Regions from separate parts of the Homo sapiens genome. Here region 2 is linked to region 1. The links come from fine-mapping of genetic effects on gene expression. A gene starts in region 1. The other region holds a variant in brackets. All regions are shown on one strand. Distances are from middle to middle.

The links.
Region 2: its variant is fine-mapped to the expression of SPTA1 in breast (GTEx, PIP above 0.99). The same link has a PIP of 0.9 or more in lung, spleen, subcutaneous fat and visceral fat.

What each region holds. Positions count from the first base shown.
Region 1 is chr1:158,681,049-158,690,494 of GRCh38, forward strand. SPTA1 (spectrin alpha, erythrocytic 1) reads right to left here and starts at 5,667. Exons shown (of 52, transcript NM_003126.4): 1 at 5,446-5,667; 2 at 4,060-4,299; 3 at 2,323-2,448; 4 at 479-619. The coding sequence starts at 5,469. RefSeq lists a silencer at 7,514-7,728 and a cis regulatory region at 8,088-8,385.
Region 2 is chr1:158,650,377-158,659,822 of GRCh38, forward strand. SPTA1 (spectrin alpha, erythrocytic 1) reads right to left here. Exons shown (of 52, transcript NM_003126.4): 19 at 7,101-7,318; 20 at 6,188-6,280; 21 at 4,235-4,372; 22 at 2,898-3,049; 23 at 2,091-2,277; 24 at 991-1,092. Among named protein-coding and RNA genes, the nearest start is that of SPTA1, 32 kb to the right of the region's middle. RefSeq lists a silencer at 8,330-8,530. The variant G/T (reference allele first, on the strand shown) is at 4,362.

The sequences.
Region 1 (9,446 bases):
TCTACGAAAGTATTTTGTTAGGCATTTGCTTATCTAAATCTTTAGTCCTAACTATTAAATTATTCCTTTAGTATTTAGAAAAATAAAACCCTCCATCTTTATAGGCACTGAGACACAAAGGATTAGAGAAAGAGCTGTCAATACTCTCAGCCAGACCCCAGAGTAAGAGCAAAAACATAGGAGAAGGAGTTAAAAATCATGGAAGTGGAAGAGAGATGAGCCTAATTATCTTTCAATGCATGGTCTTTGTGTAAGTCTTGCCTTTTTCATATTCAGATCCATATGTTAAGACTTACTTCCATACAATGTTGACCTCCAGATACCCCTACATTTTGGCCCCAATTTCCTCTTGTTCCAAAGAACAAAGCCAGGAACAGACATCCTGACTTCCTTGTGAGTAGTCTGCAGTAATTTGCTATGGGGTACCTGGGACAGAGGAGTGGGAGGCCCTGTGTGATTGCTGTTTTAAGTTCGATACCTTGTCTCCAATCCACTCTAAGATGTCAGCACACTCCTGTACATACTGCTGGAACTTCAGGGCCCGCAGCAACTGGTCACCCTTCTCCAGGGTCAGCTCTAACAGCAGGTCCCACAGGTGGCGTAGCTCCTCTATATGGGCCTTTAGGAAAGAGGGGCAAAACCACTCAGCCACAGACACTGGGAGCAGGGAAACACTCAGAGACTTGTGCAGAAAGAGACCTGGATAAAAATTCTTCTCTCAGTTACTCATGCATTAGTTGCTCAACAAACATTTAAAAGAGGAAATAGGATAGATATATGGAAATAGCTAACAAGCCAAGCCAAATGCGATCTTACATAAGAGAACAATTTGTAAAAATGCTTTGCAGTTTTAAAGGATGGAATAATTACAAACAATAAGATGGGAAGGAGGAAGAAAGCATGGAAAAGTGTTCATTTGAACTGAGCCTTATGGAGCAGAAAGATTTTTGACAGGTCAATCATAAGCATAACATGTTCTAAGAAGAGCAAACAGCAATAGCAAAGGCATAGGAGAAACTTAGCATGAATTGTCTGCCAGAAAGTGTGAGAGCTATAATTTTTATAAGTTATAAGGAAATCATTGGCACCGAAACAATAACAGTGTTTTGGGACTATACAGTTTGAGAATCTACAGAGGGCTTTGAATGCCAGATTAACTCAGAACATTATGTATTACCTGTCTTATATAACTGAAATTGCCACCTATGTCATATCTTCAAGAATCTTATATTTTTCAACTACTCCATTGCTCTGGGTAGCATGTGGACCACATATGTCGTTAAACCCCGCAATGGTACCATTTGCTATAGCCCCAGTGATTCTGACAGAAATGAAGATGTTTCAAACATTTCTCAAATATTGTAATTAATGTAGATGCTGGTTACATGCAAAACTGTGCATAATACAAAAGTTAATTATACTTTATACAAATAAACAAGTTTTGAAATTTTCCTTTTATGGGTTCTTCTTTAAAATAAGATTCTATTCTGGCTAAAATCTGTGTCCGTTGACCATATTTTGATGACAGAATGGGCTAGAATTTTTATGCTATATATAGAAAGGCCAGACCCAGTTTTAAGATATATAATGCAAATTTGTTTTGACAATTAAAAAAATACATAAACAGTAAAAAGTTCACTCACACACAAAAAAATTGAATTGACAATATTAGCACAAACATTTGGAAGAGTTCGTAGATTAAGTCCAAAAATAGCTGTTACATTAATAATAGATTACAGAGTATGAATCCTTATTGAAATAGTGATGATCTTCATTTCTAGATGTTCAGAGAAAATTTTCTGACTACATGACATTTGGGAGTTTTTAGAAGTAATAAGAAGGGACAGTTTGGAGAGGTGCAATAGTAGTCATAGGGTATGGTGTATGAAAAGAAAGAGGCATCATAGACAAAGGAAAAATATTTTGGAAAACATTCAAATGAGAGAGCATTCCTTATTTGGAGAAGTTAAGAGACAAGGACATTGAGGTTAGAGGAAATAATTAGAAAGAACATTGGAAAAAACTAATTGATCTGGATAATGTGGAACAGGTTTAAGTGGGCTTGATCTTGAGCCAAATTATCCTGCACTGTTATAGGAGGAATTTTATGCCATTTAATGACAGCTTTAATATCACAGCTCTCTTCACCCCAAGAAACACGAAGATATCCCATCATTTTTTATGCCTCAACCCCAGGGGAAGATAAGAGGCAGGAGTCCTGGGTATAAGCCAGCCACTCAAGGTTTATATCTCATATAATCAGTTAAAACCCTGATAACATAATCAATAATTGGAAACTTCTTCAAGGGCCCATACATATACCTTCGTTTCTTCGTGGGCAGAATGACCCATGGTAAATCGTTCTTCCCTTGTTTTTTCCAGTTCAGACATGAGTCTTGATTTTGTTTGCACCTCTGCTTCAAGGGATTGATGCTTCTGATATTTCCCCTAAAGTTTAGAAATCAGAGTTTTTGTCTAATGAAGCACAGTCTTCATGGGAAATGTTCACTCTATGTAAAGCCACCAAACACAGGTTCTCAAAGGGTCCCAGACTCAGAGGCCATAAAGAGTATTTTCCTGTCCCCACTGGCTTTAGGAAGTTTTCAGTAAATACTGTCCTGAGCTATGCTGAGCCTTATGATCTATGCCGAGCCTTATTTTAAAGGCTCAATAGACTGCCATAGGAATAAAAGAGTGTAACACACAGTGTCCTTCCTCATCAGAAAAGAGGAATAACTGATTTTTTTTTGGAAGTAGAGCACAATGAGAAAGATGATAGTTATAATAATGGTTTTTAAAAAAAAAAATTGAGAGTTTTTTTTGCATGCTGTGCCTGTTCTTGTAATCTATAAATTGATCCATTCAATATAGCACATTATTTTGCTCTTGTTCTAGGTGTTTCCTGTCCAACATCAATTGCTTCTGATTATGACAACACCACATGCTATAATTTTAGGTGAATAGAAAGGGGTAGGCACTTTCACCAAATTTCTTCTACTGAAACCTCTCTTTTGAAGTTAAGAGCCATGAATAGCAATTTAGGGAAGAAAAAAAAAAAACTCTGGTTAACTCATCTCTCTGAGAAGAGTAGAGAACAGGTATCACATGCTATAATTTTAGGTGATCAGAAACGCGTAGGAGCTTTCACCAAACTTCTACTGAAACCTCTCATTAGAACTTGAGACCCATGAACAACATTTTAGGAAAAACTTAAGAGCCATGAATAGCAATTGAGTTAACCAGGTTAACTAAATTGGATTTTAGTTAACCTGGTTAACTCTTATATTTCTGAGAAGAGTGGAGGACAGTTGCTTCAGAAGCATTGATGACTCTTCACCCTATTTCCCTTCTTAATGTCCCAAAATATCAAAAATCACATGGTTTGTCAGAAATTTCTTGAATTTGCAGTTGCTGTTTTGCCTGTAGGTCAATTTCAGATGAGTATTGTAACCATCAAATTCTATACAGAATAAATCTCCTTTGCAAATAACACCCCGATGTTTATGAAGATGAAGACATGGACTATTTAGAGGCAGAATTACTGTTTCTAACAGACAGTCTAATTTTTCCATTACATCACTCCCACTACAATTAACCAGATATACACTTACATTACCATAATATTTGTGCTGGATCTGAAAAAAAATTGATGTAATTTTTTACTTTTGGCATTGATGAATGCTTCACCATGAAAATATGTAAAGTATCCTATGCCCTTATCAATAAGCAATATCCTTGGTTAATGATTAAAAAATGTATATTCTGAATGGAAGTTCATTGTAAAAAACAGTTCTGTGCTTTCAACAACTGAAAAACTGCTGCTTTTTGTTTGATTCTTATTTTCTCAGTCTCACCTCTCCAACTTCATAAGGGAAAATGCACTTTTAGATTTTCTATTAATTTATTTCTTTAACTTCCCACTCCACTGACTTATTTTTGTTTCTAAACGGAATCTAATTGTACCCACACATACCCATTAACATTAACATAAAGAAAAACCTATTTCCTTCTCTAGAGATCTTAGGGTCTGCTCTGAGGCAATCAAGAGAACTGAGTGACCTGTATATTAGTTGGGTCTTCATAGCTCTTATCGGTTAAGATATTGACTTTCTCCATGATCCACTTCCCCAGATCATCTGCATCTCGCTTGAAAACTTGTAAGTGATAGGAATCCTCAAGCTTCTGACCCCTCTCAGCGACCCGCTCCTTGAAACTTTGATACCGAGTCAACACTTCCTGACGCCTCTCCTGGATCTCTTCTGCTGTTTCCAAAACCTTTGGCCCACTGCTCTCCACAACCTGCAAGTTAAAAAGATTCTGTTACTTGCTAGTTCTCAAATATTTAACATGTTGCCCCGCTTATATGTGTCAAGGTGTTTACTCATGTTGGACCTATATTCAGATATCCTGAAGTTTCTAGGGACTATTGTCAGAAGAGCTGTAGTATATTTACGTAATTTTTAACCAGACATAGCTTCTGTTTAGGTTAAAAATTCTTGATTATCCAGAAGACTCTCCTCACTTTTTACATAAATTTGTGCTAGCATTTAAGTTCTATAGATATAATTATATTGGACTGATCATGGAGCAAGTTTAAATCAGCAAAATCACATAATTTCAGATAGATAAAAAGAAATATAATGTTATTGCTTTCAAGGGCTAAAAAGGTGTTGAGAAGTGCTTATTATTTTTAACTTAATTTAATAAATAATTAAGAATGGCTTGCAATTAATTTAGTTAATGATATATGCAACAGTTTGAAAATTTTGTTTCCTTCATACTTAAAAATAAATCTCATATATTTACTCTTTACTTGCTTTACTCACAAACACTATAAATCAAAAGTTCAGCTATCTTCTGCCCAATTGTCACAAATTTCAAATTATTAGCATGTCTGCAATTTATTTTTGAAATATAAAAACTTTTACTCTAAAACAATATATAAGTATCCTTTTCCCAGAGTGGGAGCCAACCTGTTTGTGACAATATCCAGCAAAATCACCATAGGGTTCACCTTCATTCTTCTGGATATGGATACCATTTTCCCTAGCTTACCTCAGCCAAAATGTTTAATATAGAGTTTAAATTTTAATCTCCCATTATTCCTCCTAAGTATAATTGCTACTCTGTGAATTGCCATTACTGGCATGGCTATAGAATTAGATCATTACATGGAGACTCACGTTGTTACTAGGTGTTATTTAGCTTCAATCTCCCTACTTATTCTCTCTGGGAACCGACTTAAGTCATTACTGGGTCTTGGTGCTGCACAGACATAAGCTCAAGGTTATTGTTCACAAAAAATAGTTAAAAGTAAAATTATCTATTTGTTAAAAGCCAAATAATTATTAATGTTCCTGGGAAAGATAGTATAGAAAGTTTAAAGGAAACATCTTTCCTAATAATATTAATGACAAATTGCATGGAAGAGAAATATGTACTTACGGTTTCCTTTGGAAATTGCTCCATTTTTCCTAAAGGTTTAGAACCTGGCAAGATAAAATGTGTCAGAGAGAGAGAGAGAGAGAAATAATTCAAATGGAACTGTCCAGTCGAATTCAAATAGAAATATAGAAACGTTAAGTATGTGGGGGAAAAAAAAAAACCTCTTGCTTGGTCCTAGAATCCCATCAGCCATACACAATCGACATTATCTTTAGAAGACATACTCAGCTGAGGCAACTGCTAAGTTTTACAGATACTGGGTGACTCAGCAGTTTTGGGAGGCTCTGGCTTTCAAAGTTACTCAATAAGACTTAAAAAATGAAAGTAAGGTTTTTGGATGAAAAATTAGAAAAAAAACCCCATATATTTATAGGAAATACAGCTCAACAACTTCATCCAACTCAACTGCAGATTTTTCACAGTCTTTAAGTCAACGAATTATCCTGGCTTTTTCTAGAGAGTCTTTCACAAAATAAGATTTTATTCCTAACCTCAACAATTTGGTCTTTAAAAATCTGATTTAGTTGTACTCTTAATCATTTAAATGGAAGGAACAAAAAAAGTTATATGATGTGTTCATTAATATTTTGTAAAACAAAAATTAGGATACCTTATTTGACAAACCAATGATGTCACAAAAAAGTTGAAAATATGGCTGACTTCTGATATATATGGTATAAATCATCCTACTGTATGTATTAATTTTAATGGAGAACAAAAAGAGGTAGACTTTTTCCATAGGCATAGTTATTTTAGACTAACTTACAAAAATGAAACAAACAAGCAAAAAGAAAATAGTGGGATGCTCTTAGACCTTTCTACAAGCCAGTGGGGCTATCCATGCCAAACTTCATTCCAGTGTAAATGCAGCTTGAATAATCTAACTTCCATGATCTACAAGAGAAGATTTTGATTCTACATTTGTGGTTTCCCCTGTTCTTGGATCTCACATAGAAAAACTGAGAGTCCTTTACATTCTCTTCTTGAAAGTCTGGATTACTTTACTTTTCCATATAGTTTCATTATATTCAAGTCAAATTTAGTAGTAAAGGCAGGAACATAATTTTAGAGACTGCACTATAACACATGCACTGAGGAATATTTGTCTGAAGTTGGGATAAGGAGAGGAAATTATTTTATCTTTAAGAGAAAAGAATCAACATCTATGAAATATTTATATATTAACATGATCAATTTACATTAATTTCTAATCTTTAAAAATTCTGTGAGGCAGGTATTATCATACCCGTCTTTATGTGAGAAAACAGTCCCTAAAAAACAAAGTTTCATTCTATGGTGATTTGGTTTGAAAGTATTTAAATAGTCAAATCCATATCAATATGATTATCATGGCACTCTGCTCCTTATTTTTTTAGTCAATCTTCTCTTAGTCCATCAACATTATTTGTTCTGTTTCCCTGTTCCAGAATCATCTTAGCAAGAATGCCAAACATGTGATAACCTTGTGACCAAAGAAATAGTATGGCCCATTGTGAATAGTGCCACAATATACATATGTGTGCATGTGTTTTTATAGTAGAATGATTTATAATCCTTTGGGTATATAGCCAGTAATGGGATTGCTGGGTCAAATGGTATTTATGGTTCTAGATCCTTGAGGAATTGCCACACTGTCTTCCACAATGGTTGAACTAACTTACACTCCCACCAACTGTGTAAAAGCATTCCTATTTCTCCACATTGTCTCCAGCATCTGCTGTTTCCTGACTTTTTAATGATCGCCATTCTAACTGGCATGAGATGGTATCTCATTGTGGTTTTGATTTGCATTTCTCTAATGACCAGTTATGATGAGCTTTTTTTCATATGTTTGCTGACTGCATAAATATCTTCTTTTGAGAAGTGTCTATTCATATCCTTTGCTCACTTTTTGATGGGGTCATTTGTTTTTTTCCTGTAAATTTGTTTAAGTTCCTTGTAGATTCTGGATATTAGCCCTTTGGAACCAACCTGAATGCCTATCAGTGAAAGACTGGATAAAGAAAATGTGGTACCTATACACTATGGAATACTATGCAGCCATAAAAAAGGATGAGTTCATGTCCTTTGCAGGGATATGGATGAAGCTGAAAACCATCATTCTCCACAAACTATCACAAGGACAGAAAACCAAACACCACATGTTTTCACTCATAAGTGGGAGTTGAACAATGAGAACACATGGACACAGGGAGGGAAACATCACACCCTGAAGCCTGTTGCGGGGGTGGTGGGATAGGGGAGGGATAGCATTAGGAGAAATACCTAATGTAGATGACGGGTTGATGGGTGCAGCAAACCACCATGGCATGTGTATACCTATGTAACAAACCTGCATGTTCTTCATATGTGTCCTAGAACTAAAGTAAAATCATCACAATAAAAAGAAAGTAAAAATGCTTACTAATTCTATAATGTTTATTTTAAAAAAAAAGAAATAGCATGGCCCAATCAGCAGAACTGATCATAAGGAAATAAAAGTGTCTTTTCAACATATGTGTTGGAAAAATTGCATATTCACATAAAAAAATGAAATTGGACCCTTATGTTATGTACAAAAATCAACTCAAATGGGATTAAAGACTTAAATTACAACCTGAAACTGTAAAACTCCTGGAAAAAAAAAAACACAAGGAAAAAGCTTTATGACTTTTATCATATATAATAAGAATTATATATTTAGTATTTTATACAGTTTTAAAAGGATGGGGATAATTTGGAGGGCTGTTGTATCTGGCCATGGTTATCACCTCAGGGAGGGTTTGTACTTTACATAGTAGTTTAATCAGCACTGAACAGCTTGCCTCAGCTGCTGCTCAGGCATCAGAGCAAAGTGATCTGTTTGGTCTTGCCAAGTACTTCTTGGATACGGTACCAGAAACAAATGCAACAAAAGCAAAAATAAACAAATTGGACTACATCAAACTAAACATCTTCTGCACAGCAAAGAAAACAATAAGCAATAAAAAAAGTTCTCTTATGGAATGGAAGAAAATATTTGCATACATCTAACAAGAGGTTAAAATCCAAAATATACAAGGAGCTTCTTCAAATCTATAACAAAAACGAAAATTAGAAAATGAGCAAAGGACTTGAACAGATGATTTTCCAAAGAAGACATACAATTGGCTAACAGGTATAAGAAAACGTGCTCAACATCACTATCAGGAAAATGCAAATCAAAGCGATACTGAGATATTATCTCACATCTGTTAGGATGGCTACTCTCAAAGGAATAGAAAAATAAGTATTGCTGAAAATATGAAGAAGTTGGAACAATTGTACACTGTTGATAGAAATGTAAAATGGTGCAGCCACTGTGGAAAACAGTGTAGCATTGCCTAAAAACGAAAAATAGACCTATCATACAATCTAGCAGTCCCACTTCTGGGTATACAGCCAAAAGAATTAAAATCAGGATTGTAAGGAGGTATTTGCACTTTTGCACTTTTATGTTTATCTCAGCACTATTAACAAAAGTCAAGAAATGGAAACAATTGAAATGTCTATGACTGATGAAAGTGGCATGTACATACAATTGAAATAATTCAGTCATAATAACAAATGGAATCCTGTCACATATGACAACATGAGTGAACCTTGATGAAATTATGCTAAGTGAAATAAGCCAGTCACAGAAGGACAAATACTGCATGATACCACTTATAGGAAGTATATAAAATAGTCCAACTCATAGAAACAGAGTAAATAGTGCTTGTCAGAGGCTGAGGGAAGGAAAAATAGGTATTAAGTAGGTATGAAGTTTTATCCATGAAAGATGATTGAATTCTAGAGCTGTGCTGTACAACACATTGTATAAGTGTTAACAATACAGTATTGTACACTTCAAAATGTGTTAAGAGGATAGATCTCATGTTGTTTCTCACCACATTAGAAAAAAAAGTGTATAAGAATCATAGTGTTTGTTTGTTTGGTTGGTTGGTTTTTGTTTTGTTTTGTTTTGTTTTGTTTTGTTTTGTTTTTTGAGTTGGAGTCTCACT
Region 2 (9,446 bases), 31 kb before region 1:
TTCTTCACCTTCTTATCCCATAACAACCACTATAAAAACAGGCAGAAAACTCATCCTCACTGACTATGGCATTCCAGAGAACTAGACTGAACATTTATTAATGTTCATTAGATCTTTTATGGAATCATAGATCCAGATCTGAATCAGGTCAAGAATGGCCTCTCCTCTGTCTCTACTGACCTATATTCTCCTTCTTCAGCACGTTGATCAGAATCTGTGTCTTCCAGTAAACTTTCTTGATCAACCTCTTCCCACTATCATAGCTTCTTTATCTGCATTGTCTTTGAATTCATGTAATTGAGAATTTCTTCTGTGTGTGACAGTGAAAGAGAGGTGAGTATGTGTTGTAATTTAAGAATTTTAGATCAGTTCAAATGTATATATTCCAAAATTGCAGTTCAAATTCAATTATATTATTGGGTGGACATGTAAGGAAAAAACTTTACGTTTAATTTGGTGTAGCCTGGTACAGAAGATTAAGAGGAGGTTTGGATATTGTAATTTGGATATTGTGCTATCCAATATTTGCTTTCAGATATAGAAACTGAGGTTTTTAGAAATGAAGAGACTTGTCTGAGGACACACAGTCAGACAAGAATACAGCTATGATGTAAATCTAATTTACCTAATGTCCAGTGTAATATTATCTAAACCTCCTAATCCTGCCTTTTAAAGCTACATCTTAATTTCTGCTACCAATACTTTTGTCTCCTTTCCCACCCCATCCATGAAATGACATATGTGAGGGCATGGAGGACACTCAATATATGTTAACAAATGAGCCTGCTTTAATTAAGTTAATTTAGACAACAAAAATACAGGGACTATTTGGGCTATTGTCTTTGGCCTTTCCTGTAGCTAATTCCATACTGCTGTTACCTTCTGCATGTTCTAGTGGGTCTGCAGAATATAAAGTTCCATGTTGAAGTGAAATGAGGACTCCCAAAGCCCAACCTGGTAGTGAGGAGGAATGGAGGGAGCCTTAGTTACCTGCCGGATTTGAGCTCCTTCTGGTGTTAGAAGTCCTTCAAATAGTAGATCATCAGCTACCTTGTTGATATCCCTTAGCCGAGGCTCATTGGTATTCAAATCCTGAATGGGAAAATTCATCCAAAGCAGTGTAAATTCATCCAAAGCAGTGTAAATCCCCTCATCAAGAATCTACCATACTTACCTGTCCATCTCTGCCCCTACATCACCGTAATACACACCAAGCTCCTCTCCTCCAATCCACCACTGAGAAGAGTATCCTTAAAGATCTTGACACCTAGTGGCTGTCCAAAACTTGTCAAGATAACTATTATTTATCTGTAGTATGAAGCACAGCCATTTTTCTAGATTTCTTAAAATCTCCCCTGGATTAAATTATACCATTAGAGGGATTGATACCTGAGCTGTGTAACATCCTTTTCTACCAGTACAAACTCCAGCTTTAAAGATTTCTTTAACTGAGTTATTATCTGCCTATATTATGAGATATTGTAAGAAACAGCTCTAGGGAGTGCTCTCTCTCTCTCTCTCTCTCTCTCTCTCTGTGTGTGTGTGTGCGCGTGTGTGTGTGTTAAATCCCACGTGGAAGATATCAAAAGAAAAAGAAAAGAAGGAATGTACACTCACTGCTAGTTAAGATAATGGAAAAAAATCTAAGGGAAGAAAGAATATTGAAAGGGTTTTAGGTAGGCAAAAAATTAGAAATTGTTTGTCAAGTCAGGTTCTTCCTTCTTCCACCCCAAACTCTGCCCCATAATTAAACTTTACACATGGTACAACAATACCTTATCCCAACCTGGGCACTGGAAACAAAGTATAGTATAGGGCAAGTTGTGAAGAATTCAGGAAGACCAGCACTCCAGGGAGGATTTTGGAGTGGCAGGCACTGAAGGCTGCAGTTAGGGTAACTAGTTTTCTCTGCATTTCCCTTCCAATTATTAGCAACTACAATACCTAGAGGGAGATCTCAGCCACAGAGTTGCCAATAGCTTTGGGGAGAATATTTAACAAGTGTGAAATAAATTAAAAGATCATGTAGAATATGCTGAGGGATAAAAGCAAACAATGGCAACCTTCAAGAGAAGGTTCCTCTTTCTCACCTTTTGGAACTCATCAAACTTTTTCTGCAGCTCCCAAACATCATCTAGTTCCACTCCAGTGTTTTCTGCCTTTTTCTCTTGAATCCATTCCAGCATGTCTCCTGCCTCATAGGCCAATAAAAATTCATTATAACGTTGCAATAGACGACGTCTGCGTTCTTCTGCCCGATCCAAGAGGGAGCGGTATCTGGATGGAGAATTGGGAAAAGTGGAATAAAAGAAGGAGAAAATACAGAAGAGTAGAGGCTGAGTGACAAACATAGAGAAAGAAGGAACAAAAATGAAAGGGAAAACAAATCAAAAGCAAAAGAATAGTAGAAGAGAGGAGGAAATAAACTTAGAAGGAAAACAGCCTTGGGGGCAAAAAGATAAACACATAGGATTGCATTTAAAAATAGTAAAAATGCCAGTGACCCAATAGTATGACTGGCAACATTCCTTTCCCATTTCATAAAAGTGACATTTTTACATGGTAACTGACAATTGGATATGAAAAGCCTGGCATAGTAAACAAAGTTCATATAGATGTCAGGAGACTTTAATAACCTTGAAAGAATGTGGGGCAGGGAATCAGAAGAGCTCTGTGAAGTGTATGACCTCAGGAAATTGATGGAATGATTCTGGGGTTGCCTTTCCTCAAAAAGAAACCGAAACATTTAAAAGATTCTAGGTTTACTTTCGATTCTTAAAATCTTCAGATTTTCTGTGGCATCTCAAATCTAACAGATGCAGGGTCATGAGAAGAAATGCCTTTGGCGAAAAATGTCTGACCAAATACTGTTCAGTTCTCCAGGCTCCAGAACTTACTGGTTCTCAATCTGCTCCTGGCGCTGGGTGATGTTTCCTGGCTCTTCTCGTCGCCGCTGTGGGAGCATCGGGAACTCATCGTGGGCCAGTCTTCTGACATAGACAGCTGGGACAATGCCCTGATGATCAGCAGCTTCCACCTTCCACCAGTCCTGAAGGGAGAGCAGATCCCCACTCCGTCATTAATTCTTGGAAAAGCAACAAACGGGAGAGACTTCAACACTAAGTCTCTTGGCCCAGGCACAGGTTAATGGCAAAGATAAGCTAACCATGTCTAATGAGTGGCACATAATTTTCATATATGACCAAGAAATGAAATGAAGAATTGCATAGACAAGCCCCTGAAATCAAGTAATCTGATACCTAATGTTAGACCCTTAACTTTGGAGAGATTTTCAAACACCCAAGACAGCTCTTTTAATGATGGGGCACTTTGTTCATGAGGAATTTACAAAAAACACATGGAGCCAGGCTCTAGCTGGATTTCTTGGCAGTGGAGCGTCTGTGTAAGAGGATATTGCACAAAAATTCTTCTCTTCTATTCTTCTTGCAGAGGTCTGAAAAATGTGAATTGCTCTGACATTCATATACCTGAGTGTTACTTTATTTTTTATTTTTGAACTGTTGCCACATCTACCAAAACCCTGAGGCTAATTTCCTCAAAAAATAATGAAGAGGCCTAGACAAAGAAAAAATGGACTGGCACACATTATTTGATAATGAAACATCTGCCGCTCCAAACATTTACTTGTCTTTGGAATAACTATAGCCCAAACTATTTTCTTTTCTTCTTAAGAATTTTTGTAGATTAATTAGGTATCAGAGTATAAAAAATTACTTCAGTTTTTATGAAAAATATATTTAAAAATCTCAACCAATATTTTATCACTGTTCTTCCAGGCACAAGATCTAAAGAAAATCAAGTTGACAAAAGACTCATCTTTTGGTAGGCTCCTTCTAACCCCAGACATTGTTATTTTATCACTAGAAATACTGGCACAGAAGAGGAACAAGCAAAGAGGAAGAAAGAAAGAGACAGCTTAGCCCTTTAAATATATTATAGAATTTCCACTCATACTTTCTATATCTTTGGGCTAATTATATAACTTCAATTCTTTATGATTTTAACTGCAACATTGGGATTATAATTCCAAAAGATATGTGTAGGATCCTGCAAAATATCTACAGGAAAAATACTACCTAATCAGTTATAGTTATTCAAGAAATAAAATAATAAAATAAATGTTAGATGGTAAAAATATGAATATCTGGCAGGATTGGGAGAGATGGTTCTGAAAGAGCCACTTTTTGATGGAAAGATTAGAAGGAAAAGTCACCTTATTGATGGAACTGAGCAGCGTTAAGACATCACCTTTCTTCATGGTGACTTCTCGGGGGCTGCGGGCCTGGAAGTCATATAAAGCCATGACCCTTTGTTCTCCAGCAACTCCCTCCACTGGTGCA[G/T]CCTGTTGTTGCTGAATAAAAACAGGAAGCAGGTGTCAGTCACGCACTGGAAATATCTCCCTGTACAGCTTACCAGGGGTGAGTAGTCCTTTAGGCTTCCCAGGAGAAAAGAGCCTCTGGCTGGAACCTCTTACGTGGCTGCAGAGATTAAAGTATGTGGTCTTCAGAGAGACTGCTCCATTCTGACACTTATCGGGGACAGGCAGGTTGGGAACTATAAACCCAAAGCAAGGAAGGAAATACATAATTTGTCAGAAACGTATTAAATGCTCTAAGCCATCAGTTCTTAAAATGGGAGGAGTACATTTTAAGAAGTGTACTCCCTTAAGAAGGTCCAACAGGATTATACACATCAACATTTCAAAAAATTGTTTGAGAAAGTGAAAAGACCCACTCTCTGTCGTCACCTTTCCCTGTACCTCCAGTGATAATTCTTCCCACTCCTTCTGGCCTTTAAGTTACTATGTCAGGAGCTCCGGACCTTCTATTTGAGATATGAGTGATCAATAGCACAGGAAAGGCCACAGAATTTTAAAAACTGAGAACATTAACTGAGATCATTAAAAGTATCTTGTGTCTCAGTTTAGTAAGCAGCCTGCATTCTAAGGTAGAATTTTCTCTGATTTTTACTTTCTGCCAATTTCATGTCTCTGAGAAATCAAGCAAAACATAACCCCTCTTCCTAAGGAATGACCCACCCCTTCCTCAGGTTGGAGTTGAATATGCACCTCCACCGACAGAGCCCTCTAATTTCATCTCCTTTAGGTAACATGTTTCCTCATACCACACAATATATAAATCCTTCTGTTCTTGTTTAGGCACCCACTGTGCAGAGCCTGGTGAAGGCACAGTATAGGAGGTCTGTAAATATACACTGATTTGACAGACTGAGTCTACGTCTTTTGTTTACTCTGAATGTGTGGATTAACAACCTCTCATTAGAAAGAATTCCTTGAAGGTAAGAAGTGTGTCTCTTTTTTTCTACCACTACATATAGTAGACATTGTTATAACATTTATTTGATTCCAGTTCAATTAATCTTCATGACACCCAGTTTTGCCCTGTACCTGAGCCATTCTCATATTCTCAACCAATTGCATCTTCCATTCTCACATTCTTAACCAATTGCATTTTCCACAAAACTTGATTGTTTTGTGCCTCAGTGCATTTGCTCTCATGGTTTATTGACTAGAAAAACGCTTATCCTCTTTCTCTGCACAGTAAACTACCCATCTGTCTTTCCTTAATAATTCAGATCAGGCGGTTTCCCTTAGCTTACAAAAATTTTCCTGTTTTCCAGTACTGTTATTTCAAGAGAACACAAGAGGCCTTTCTTTGAGACTCTTTGTCCTGTTCATACATCTATTATATGCACTTACTGTTAAACATCTGGCCTCCTAATAGACTGTAATTTTCCTGCAAATCAGGATTTTTTATTCATACTTACATATAGTAGACATTTAATAAGTTTTGGCATTAAAAATTAAGAAACAAAAGAAGGGAGTAAAGAAGAAAGATAAGAAGGAGAGACATAAATGAAGAAAAGTAAGAAAGAAAGAAGGGTAGAAATATAAAAGGAAGGAAAGAGGAAAGCCAAAAATACATCAATGAAGACATGATACCATTTATCAAAAACCTCTTTTGGACAAAGTCTCCTTTGGACTAAATTGTGGATGCTACAGTTCCTGCATACAAGGGTCATAGAACTTAGTGTTTTCTTTGCCATTGTTTTTGGGGTTGTAGAAAGTAAAAAATCAGCAATAAAGACAATTTCTTTTTCTTTGTGGTGGGAAGTGTGAATCCTGTCATCGCTAAGTTAGTCTTACCTGGCAGGCGTTTGCCTGATTCCGCAGAGCTTTCATACTGTCTCCAAATGAATTGAGATCTAATAGAAAGGCCTCATGCTTCTTTAGAAGAGCCTGCATTTATTGATGGAAGATCATCAGAATGAATATAGGAGGAACACTATTATTTCAACTACTATTATTTTGGGTTATGCTATTTGTCTTAAATCCTGGTAAAAGCTGCTTTCCATCTATCATAAAGTTATTTTTAACCCTAAATTTGCAAGCATGAAGGAAATAGGAATTAATAAATTATAATTTCAATATGTTTACTAAAATCAAAATTAACTCAAACTTGCAAAAGTATTTTTATCAACACAGATTATAGCTGAAAAGAGGATGCTGTTGATACTGTTACTTTATAGGATAAACATTAGTGTAACTTAAAATATGCATACCAATAATTTCTAGTTCCAAAGGTTTGTGAAATACTATACCAGCTTCCTATGGGACAATGTGCAAAACAAATAAATGGATAAAAAGTGTGATTATAACCTTTGTGGTTCTTCTTGCCCCAACATATCTGTCCAATTTTATTTTAATCAAGTAATTAAGGTGTCTCTATCTTAAAACCATGATTAATTTATAAATGCTCAAGGTTACTCTGGAAAGTTTAGGATCGGATTATGACTATGACTCTGATCACACTTTTTTGATTTAGATAATCTCTAAAGAGTATATGAATCTCCATGGGATGAGAAAAATGTAGCATATCTTTTGGGATTCCTGTCAACTCTGAGGGAGTCTCAGCAGATGAAGGCCAACGGCGACCACTCTGGAAACCCCAAATAATCTGGCAGAATCTGTAGCTGTCCCACAACCTAAGCAAACCCTAAATTGATAATTTGGTTGCGTTTGTTGAGGATTCACAATGTTAAACCCACCCCCACCTTACCCCAGCTGCTTCTTCATCAGCACCATAGTTAGTATTATCTACAATAGGTTCCTTCTCTCTGATCCATGTTTCTGCTTCATGCAGGTCAGCCAGGTACTGCTGGAACTGGACATTGGCTTCAAGATCATTTTGTCGCCTAGCAGCTCGAGCACGGAGAGACTCCATATTCTGGTTCAAACTCTTGACCCTAGAGGCCACATCTTCTGCAGCAAAGTGTCCTATGGAGTAATTATAGAAAAGGTGAGTATGATCCTCATGAGTGTTTACCATACTCTAATCCTTTTGGTACCTTGGAAAAGAGAAAGGAAGTGATAAAAATGGTATGTTATTTAGTCGACGTTATATTTTTCTTGAGTTACCTGGGAATTGAAATATCCTAAGTGAGATTAAGTAACAAAAGGTACTAATGGGAGATATGCATGTGGTGGTGAATGGGTTGGTATTGTCTGACAAAGACAGACTTGAAAACAGAATACTAATGTGTGGGTGACTGAGAGTTCCAAAATCATGTCTTCTTTAGATGAAGCAGAAAAATCAGCTGATTTCCATTTCTTCCCATAAAGGAGTTATTACTATGAGAGTTGCTCTTCCACCCTAAACAACTAGAAAACAGGAAAAGCTGTAAGATAAAATGATTTTCAGACAATGGAGAGAGGACTCTGATTCCTGAGAGAAGGGAAATAAATGAGATATATTTTATAATTGCCAAGCTTATGCCTCAGGAGGTTTCTGGGCTGTAGGCCTGGGTAGCTAACCCAGATAGAACCACCAGTCACACTGAATTGAGGACACAGAGATCAACATTTGGGAAAGACAAGAGAACTAGAACTTGTGAGGTTGAGTGTCAAAGAGAAGGGTGTTACAGAGAGATAGACCTTTTCAGAGAAGTTCCCTAGAGTATTTGTCTGATTACTCATATGCACACATGTATAAGGAAATCCTGGAGGGTGAGAAAAGAGTGACTTAAAAGCAGTGGACAAACAACTTCTAGGCCTCAATTAAGAATGAAAATAGTTAACATTCCACCCATCAAAGTGGAAAAATATTGTAATACATGAGATAGGGTCCTCAGAAGAGTAACATATCTCAATATTACTTTCATCTCTAAATCAGTCCCCTAATAAACCCTGCCCCAGGAGTACCATAACAAAACAGATCCAAGGAGCTCAACAATCACCGAGCTGAATAAACAAGGAAAACTCCATCAAGTTATAGCATAATCAAGTTGTTTAATACCAGTGATAAAGAGAAAAGCTTTAAAACAGGTAGAGGGGGAAAAAAAGACATATTACATACAGAGGAGCAAAGATCATGATGACAGCAGACTTCTTATCAGAAGCTTGCAAAGTCAGAAGACAAGACAGCACATCTTTAAAATACTGGAAGAAAGAAGTTGTCAACCAAGAATTTTATATGTAGTGAAAATATATTTCAAAAAGGAAGGTAGAATGAAGACCTTTAGATGAACAAAAGTCTAGAGAATTTATGGATAGAAGACCTGCAATATAAGGAATGTTAGATGAAGTTCTTCAAGCAGAAGAAAAATAATACAAATGAAAATATTAACCTAAAGAAAGGAATGAAGAATACTGGAAATGGGAACTATGAGGGTGAATTTTTTTCTCATTTAATAATCTCATTCAAAACCAGTTGACTACCAAAGCAAAGATAATGATGTTGAATTATAGGGTATATAACATGTAAAAATTTAAAATATGTGACACCAATAGCACAAGGGTGAAAACAAATGGAAGTATCAATTTAAGAATCTTATATTAAACATGAAATGCATAATATTATTTGAAATTAGACTATGATAGATTAAAAAAATCTATATTTTAATTCCTGGAATAGTGGCTTTCAAATTTGTGCTTTTGGGATCCCTTTACAATTTTAAAAATTATTAAGAATGCAAAATATCTTTTGCTTATATAGTTAGACTGATTAATAGTTCCCATATAAGAAATCAAAACAAGAAGCTTTGAAAGAAAAGAATGTACAAGCATATACTCCATTAGACAGAACAGTGACATCATCACCCATCTCTAGGCTCTGGGAAACTCCATTCTATGCTTATAAAAGAATAAGTCTGTAAAAGAAAATAATAGTCTTAGCATTATTTTTTTTTTTTTTTTTTTTTTTTTTGAGACGGAGTCTCGCTCTGTCGCCCAGGCCGGACTGCGGACTGCAGTGGCGCAATCTCGGCTCACTGCAAGCTCCGCTTCCCGGGTTCACGCCATTCTCCTGCCTCAGCCTCCCGAGTAGCTGGGACTACAGGCGCCCGCCACCGCGCCCGGCTAATTTTTTGTATTTTTAGTAGAGACGGGGTTTCACCTTGTTAGCCAG